2 linked regions of the Homo sapiens genome follow. The protein of the gene in region 1 interacts with the protein of each later gene in a biochemical or structural test. Each region holds a gene or a part of one and is shown in the gene's direction. Other genes may lie near its edges.

What was found. The genes of interacting proteins can lie anywhere in the genome.
Region 2: the proteins of SDC2 (region 1) and CASK form a complex in vitro, tested with the Homo sapiens proteins (2 studies listed by BioGRID and IntAct, with this or other methods).

Annotation. Positions count from the first base shown.
Region 1 is NC_000008.11:96,601,698-96,605,452, forward strand, and holds part of SDC2 (syndecan-2 precursor), read left to right. Parts: intron 1-697; coding exon 698-831; intron 832-3,755. UniProt on the Homo sapiens protein: Cell surface proteoglycan which regulates dendritic arbor morphogenesis.
Region 2 is NC_000023.11:41,552,800-41,556,554, reverse strand, and holds part of CASK (peripheral plasma membrane protein CASK), read left to right. Parts: intron 1-919; coding exon 920-955; intron 956-2,639; coding exon 2,640-2,836; intron 2,837-3,755. UniProt on the Homo sapiens protein: Multidomain scaffolding Mg(2+)-independent protein kinase that catalyzes the phosphotransfer from ATP to proteins such as NRXN1, and plays a role in synaptic transmembrane protein anchoring and ion channel trafficking.

The DNA of each region.
Region 1 (3,755 bases):
CACATGAAATAAGGAGTCAGCCATAGGAGAGTTTTCCTGTTTGCATTTTGTTTTGTTGTGGGTTTTTTTAATTTTTATTTTTGGCAGAGTCTCACCCTGCCACCCAGGCTGGAATGCAATGGTGTGACCTCTGCTCACTGCAACCTCCACCTCCAGGTTCAAGTGATTCTCCTGCCTCAGCCTCCCGAGTAGCTGGGATTACAGGCGTGCGCCGCCACGCCCAGCTAAATTTTTGAATTTTTAGTAGAGATGAGGTTTCACCATATAGGCCAGGCTGGTCTCGATCTCCTGACCTCGTGATCCGCTCTCCTCGGCCTCCCAAAGTGCTGAAATTACAGGCGTGAGCCCCTGCACCTGGACTGTTGTGTTCTTAAAATGGAAATGGAGCACGTTTCAGTGTAGATGGGAAAAAATCTTGTCAAGCAGGGAGAAAAGGAACATGCAAGTGAAAGAAGGGCTACTTGAATGTTCAGGATAATACTATTAAGGAAAAACTTGCTAGACTACCCACAGACACCTTTGAAATCACTTCTTCATCATGGTGAAGACCACAGGAAGCTTTGTGCTGAAGTCTTAAAGAGCCAGCATTTTGAAAGAACATGATTCTGTCAGTGTCAACGTCAGGCAATAGTGCCTGATAATGGAGACATCTGTGTCATGATTGCCATGCTCAGTTCATCTTCACTTACTTTTCCAGGAGCTGATGAGGATGTAGAGAGTCCAGAGCTGACAACATCTCGACCACTTCCAAAGATACTGTTGACTAGTGCTGCTCCAAAAGTGGAAACCACGACGCTGAATATACAGAACAAGATACCTGCTCAGACAAAGGTGCGTTCTATTTTCCATTGCATTGCATTATCAGGTTATTACAAATGCTTCACTTTACTGACTGTACACAACAGTCCCTTTTGTATTATTTTCTTCTTTTTGGAGCTACCCATCATGAACTATGTACACAACAGTTCTTTTAAAAGACCCCACTTAAAATTGTGTAAGGACAAATGGTCTTCAGGTGGTGTTATAAATGGCTCTTCCTTACTCTTTTTGATCATTTTGGCATTTACCCACTTATAATCTCTGTCATCCAGGCTCAAATTATATACAACTATTTTTCACATGGCCCTCCTTCTTAAGGAACGTCTGAAGCCCAGTTAAGAAGTAAAGCCCTGTTTCTTTGGTTTCCTGGTTTGTAGGTTACGTAATTAGAAGACTCCAGGTCACGTCTTGAGGTGGTCCTAGTCTCACTAAGTCATTTCTCAGTCTTCCTAGGCCGACCATCAGTACTATGTAATCCTTGACCTCTCTCGATGATGATGAACCTGGGTACATCTGTATATATTCATTTTGAGAGCTGACTTATTAAGAATAAGGTCTTTGGCCTTAGACCTGAGTAAAGTGACCAGCTAATGAAAACTTGGAGCTTGTGATTTTGACCTCGTTAATATTGCAGTTAGCTGACCATCCACTAATAGGTAACCCACTGAAGTTAGAACATGCATATTAAAGTCTGGCAAAGACCTAAGTTTCAAATCCTGGATCCAGTCAGGTTTCTTAGCTTCTGAACCCATTTCCTATGGGCCTTGAAGAAGATGAAATGTGAGTGCATGTAGCATGGCACCTGAGACCTAGTCACCATTCTGTAAGCATTAATTGAATTGGTGGAGCAGAAGAGACCAAGCCAATTCACCAAATGAGCATGTGTAATAACTGTAGTGGTAGACTTTGCAATCAGTGCAGGGGTAACATATGGCTTAAGAAAACTCAGAAGCACAAGCATCCCCTTTTAGAGCTCACCCATCTGTTGATTAGAAATGAGATGCTGCCAAGCTTTAGCAGCAGACAGGGTATGGATATGGAAGGCTGTTTGATGAAGGTGGCGACAGGCCTTCCTTGGAGTAAGAATCATCCCGTCTTCAGGCCAGAATGCATGTGGGCTTTTCTTACCCTTGCCCCAGAGTACCTTTGTTCTTCCTCCTCCTCCATCCTCCCAGTGCCTGTGACTGGAATGGTGAATGGCACCGCTGGATGGGTTTCTGCAGATGTGGAACAGCCAGGAAGCCAGCCCTGTCCAAATTGAAGTGCTTTCTGTAGGACCAAGAAGGGTCAATTACTATTAGTGGTAGACTTCACAAGCCAGGCGGTAGGAAGGCAGGGAGAGCCCTATGAGAACTGAGACCGACTCACCTGGCATGTGCTGGATCCATGCATAAAAGCTACTGTATCAATGTTTCAGTTGAGTGAATGAAACAAAAAAAGAAAGGGAGAAATGAAAAGTGCAGGTGCAATTGGTGGTACGATGACTGCCTCAGAGTGTGTGTGGCACAATTAGCTACTATTTACTAAAGATGCATTTGGCTCTTACCACATTTTTATTTGACCACTTCTCTTGACTAAATCTGCTGAAGTCAGAGACAATTAGGACTCACTAGCTTGAGGGAAGCAACTCTCCTGGGTGAGTTTTGGCTTGTAGTGATAGAGAGTTCTATCCTAAGCAAGACTTAATTTGACATAGAGTTCTGTCTGGTTTGTTAACAGCAATGGATTGACCACTAATTTAAGTTTTTAAAAATTGGTTTTAAGGAAGTAATTGCATCAGATCGAGATAAAAAATGTAGAACTTTGGCAGGTGAATTTAAAAATTAAGGAGCCCAAAAGATTTTAATACATTTATATTCTTACTATCATTTGTGTTCAATATAGTAATAGTAGAAATTCATCCATTTATAGGAGATTTGTTGAGTGCTATTCATTATGTGTCGAACACTGTTTGCAGCACTGATAATGATAATATTGATCATGAATAACATGAATAATAATGATTAAATTTTTCATTTTGCTGTTTATGTGGTACAGCCGAATTGAACATTGCCTCTAGGATACCATTAGTGTAGATTTTGCTTTTCAATTGGTCTCACAGTGGCATTAATGTCACTGTTACGGATATCCTATCTAGTTTGTTGTAAATTTAAGTGACTAAAATGCACAAAAGGGAATCTCGTTATTTGTTTGAGAAGAGCATCACTCATAAGCTTTTACTTCTGTTGCATTTCCATGGCATCCAAACAACCAGACATGGATGTGGCAGATCTTTACTTGGCCTCATTTAATCATCCCTGCTGTCTTTTTGCGGATTCATTTTGCACATACATTCATACAAGAGTGAAGGTATTTCAGATTAGTTCCATATTACCAAATGGTATCTTCTTAGTCAAGCCTTTGCTTCCATACGATAAAACATTTTGACTTAAAAAATGAATTTTCCACCCAGAGCCGCTTGAGGCTTGTGCACCTCCAGCTGCAGGGCGGCTCCAGTTCTGTGGAGTCCTTCAGTTCCCACACTCTCAGATCCCTGGATTGCACGCTTTGTTCAGCCTGCCGGATCAGAGGCTGAGTCAGAGGAAACTGAAAAGATCAACTCTCTTAAATGACTTTAGGGACTCAATCACATGGTGAAACCATATGATTTGTAATAATAATGGGACAAAGATGATATGGATATGGATGAATTAAACTCAGTCTCTCATATTACAGTAACTACTTAGGTCCATTTCATTTCTCACCAGAACTTGTTTACCTCTCTCCCTAGTCACAAACCTGAGTATTCACCTATTTGAGATTTCTCTTCCCTTTTCTAACTTGTAATAGTAAAGCAGTACTAATGAGCAGTGAAAAGGTCTCTAGACTAGAACCCAGATAATCCATTCTCTGACCTGTTGTCTGTCTTTCCACAAGGCAGCCAATTAATGATGGGC
Region 2 (3,755 bases), on another chromosome or scaffold:
TGTGGTACGTGCACATATTTTTGTGAATTATAAGCCTTGCCTGGATATGAAAAGCAAAAAGAACTGGCTTCAAACTGCACTTAAGCCACGCTGTTATCACATCTTTAACACAAAGTACTTTATATTTGACTTGAACTTGGAGTTTTAAATTTTTTCAGAACTATCCATTTTGGAATATAGAAAGAATTGTTTTTAACTTATTTAAACAAATGGAAGCACTTAACAGGTGCAGACTGGCAATATTTTGGTTGCTAATACTGCTGTTTATGACCCAGTTAAAATTATTGAGAGTTCTAATAATGCAGCAGTATTCTTCTTTCCTGACTTTTAATTTGCCCTTTGAGAATATATCAACTTTTTTATCAGGTAAAATTGTAAATAATTTAGAAATTATCTCAAATGGAATGATATTCTAAGTATATCGTAAGAGAAATTATGAAAGAAAATTGTCTATGACTTTATTTTCAACTTTAAAATAGGCTACCAAAGGAATTCATTCATAACAGTTAACATTTAATACTTTTAAGATGATGAAAAGCCATATAGCCATTGAATTTTTCAAAATCTAAATGGTTGCAGTGACTAAGTTGAAAAGGGCAACAGCTCCTTTTATTTATTTTTTTTTTTTAATAGGCTGTTTCACTTGCAGTGGCTTTTGTGTTGAAGATGCTGAGTTGTTTCTTAAGAACACATTTTCTCTCTGCTTAAACTTACCTGCTTTCTTCAGCTTGCTGCTAAATGGCCTGGGTTTGACTTTTTGATAACTCAACATTTCTGATAAATGGAATAATGTATATTATCTCTTTACAACTTAAATCTAGCTCATTTTTTTAACCATATTGTAACAGAACACACAAATTACTTTGTACTCTTGAAAAATAAATGAAAATTTTTCTCCTGGGTTGGCTTTATTCTACAGGACTTGCCATCAACTACCCAACCAAAAGGACGACAGGTGAATAGATATCCTCTATAGAAACTTCTCTAAACTGAGCAGCTAATAGCCAATCCTTTATTAACCCTTTCCATCCCATAATGTTTGCATTTTGGACCATAACATTTGAGCATTGAGAGCTTGTACCATTTCATTTTAACACATTACACATGACTAATTCTCTATAAAGAATTTTTCCTCACATCTTTGTAGCTGTAATGGTTATTGTAATTTCAACCTGATAATTTTATATTAATGGTTAAGAATTCAGCCTTTGGGGGTGGCTGTGGGCCTGCCTCTGGCATGCAAAAGAATTTTAAAGGTTATAAAATTCTTAGAATTCTAAGACTAACTAAAAAGTTATTCTTAAAATGCTGATGAACATTTTTAAGCAAAAATTTTCTGAAGTTGAAAGCTTTTTCTTAAATTTGTATTTGCATGTGTATTTCTAAAAGCCATTTGCAATGAAAAATAAGAAAAGAATATAAATTATCTTAGCTTCACATCCTGATATACCTGTGTTAGTTCAAACATGAAAAGTTAAGTGCTGCCTAACACTGGCAAGTAACTTTCAAATTGCCAGCACTTTAGAGGTATAGATTTTAAATGCAAATGCAGAGACTTGTAATTTTATAGGCTGGATTGCTGAAAATAAACAGAAAAATCACACAGTGGTTCCAAAGTCTTCAGGTTGGTTTTACAGTGACTTAAACATTAATATTCAATTTTAATTTCAAGAGATAGAATTTTTATGGGATTTTTATCTTGAAATATGGTATTAAAAATAATCAGATTTAGTGTTAAGATATGTATAAATTAGTACCTGATAGAATTCACCCATAATTTTGTCTTAAGACTGTATAATTGATGGAACATTGGGTATGAATTACCTTATCTTAAAGCATTTAAAAAATAAAATAATTCATAAAATGCTGCCATATAATAAACCCTTGAATGCTAATCTATTTCCTAAGTAAACTCACATATCATAAAACTCAGAGCCTTGAACTATGCATGTCTTGAAGCTCTGTGCTGATTTCAAGTGTTACATTGGGGGAAGCTAGGGTTCAAATTCATTTTTATTCTCTCAGAAGAGTAAAATACAAACCTAAAACCTAAATTAGAAAAAAATGAAGCTTTTTTTAACTTTTAAAAAATTGTTTGAGTTACACTTAACTTTATCAGCAATGTGTAGACACACTGCCAGTTGTCATATAAGCATTCTACAGCAAGATACCAACCCAGAGTTCTTGCTAATTTTATATCGTGTGCTGCTTTAGGGTTAAAACCTATCCTGACTGCTAGTATTTATGGCTTAAAGGCTGCCACGCAGTCATGACAACGTATCCATAATGCCAGCATCACCAATGCAGGTTTAAAAAAGAGCGAGCATACTTTTCTATAATTAGAGGCCTATTCTGTTACAGTAAAAGCATAAATTAAGTCTTTATTTTTATTAAACAAGTATTTCAAGTGTTCCTTCCAAATAAAAACAGCAAAGTTTTGAAGCTATACTCATCAAAGATTACTAGTACATTGTTTCTAGCGGTAGAAGTTTTTTGTGTCGTATTTCCATGCATCGTTTTTGCTTTCACCATCTGATGTCCTGTTTGTATTGTAACTGTTGGTGTGTGGTTATGACATTAGAGCTAACTTCTCTTTCACATCACTATGGCATCCTTTCTTACGAACTCCTGTTTTATAGATCTATGTAAGAGCACAATTTGAATATGATCCAGCCAAGGATGACCTCATCCCCTGTAAAGAAGCTGGCATTCGATTCAGAGTTGGTGACATCATCCAGATTATTAGTAAGGATGATCATAATTGGTGGCAGGGTAAACTGGAAAACTCCAAAAATGGAACTGCAGGTCTCATTCCTTCTCCTGAACTTCAGGAATGGTATGTTTTTATGCGTGTTTTGCTTTGCTTGGTTATAAAAACAAAGCCCTGACCATCCATTTTCCAATTTTATATTATTTTAGAGTGTAAAACCTGTTTGATATATTCCTTCCTTTACGAGCCAAACAAAATTTAAATTAGTCATCCAAGAATTCTATATCTTCAGTATCTAGTGAGATCCTAGTTGCAGAGTCAGGGCTTCATTTTACACAAAAAGAAAGGAAGGTCTGGAAAGAGATTGGATGAGCAGCCCTGAGCCAAGTCATGGTCTCACAGCAGAGCCCTCCACTCCTATATGCTGTTATAATTGTTTTAGAATGGCATTAAAAAAATGTACGTTCTCCTTGCCCTTCTACATGCTTTCATGCCCATCCCATTCCCACCACCAGCAAAAAATGTAGGTGCAGTGCTTCAGTGTCACTCAGAGTATTTGAAGATAAAATGTATTTCACTGTTAGAAGGAGGTAGTCAGAAGCTTTGTTCTTTACCTTGCCAGTCCTTTAAAAATACCTTTTCTGCTAGAAAGTTTAAGCCCTAAAAGCAGGCTAAAGTTAGGGGTTTTAGGCACTGTTTTTAACTGAGAGAAAAGGAGTCACAGATCACTGTATATTTTGATAAAATCTATTTCTGCTATTATTGTTACCGTTTCCTTAGTTGAACTGTCTTTTGGAAAATATTGATGGTTTTACCTTTGTTGGTACTTGGGCAATATACCAGATTATTTCTAGCACAAAAGAGATAATGTCTGAGTTTTGTTTCATGTGGCAAAAAATAACAGCCATTAAGCATCCTGCCAGTTCCTCCTAAAATACTTGAACCCAGCTAAAAGAGACCAAAGACATTGAGTCCATAGAAATTTCTACCTGCTTTTATCTATTTTTCTCACTAGTTAAGAGATTTCTCAGTTAATCTCTTTTGC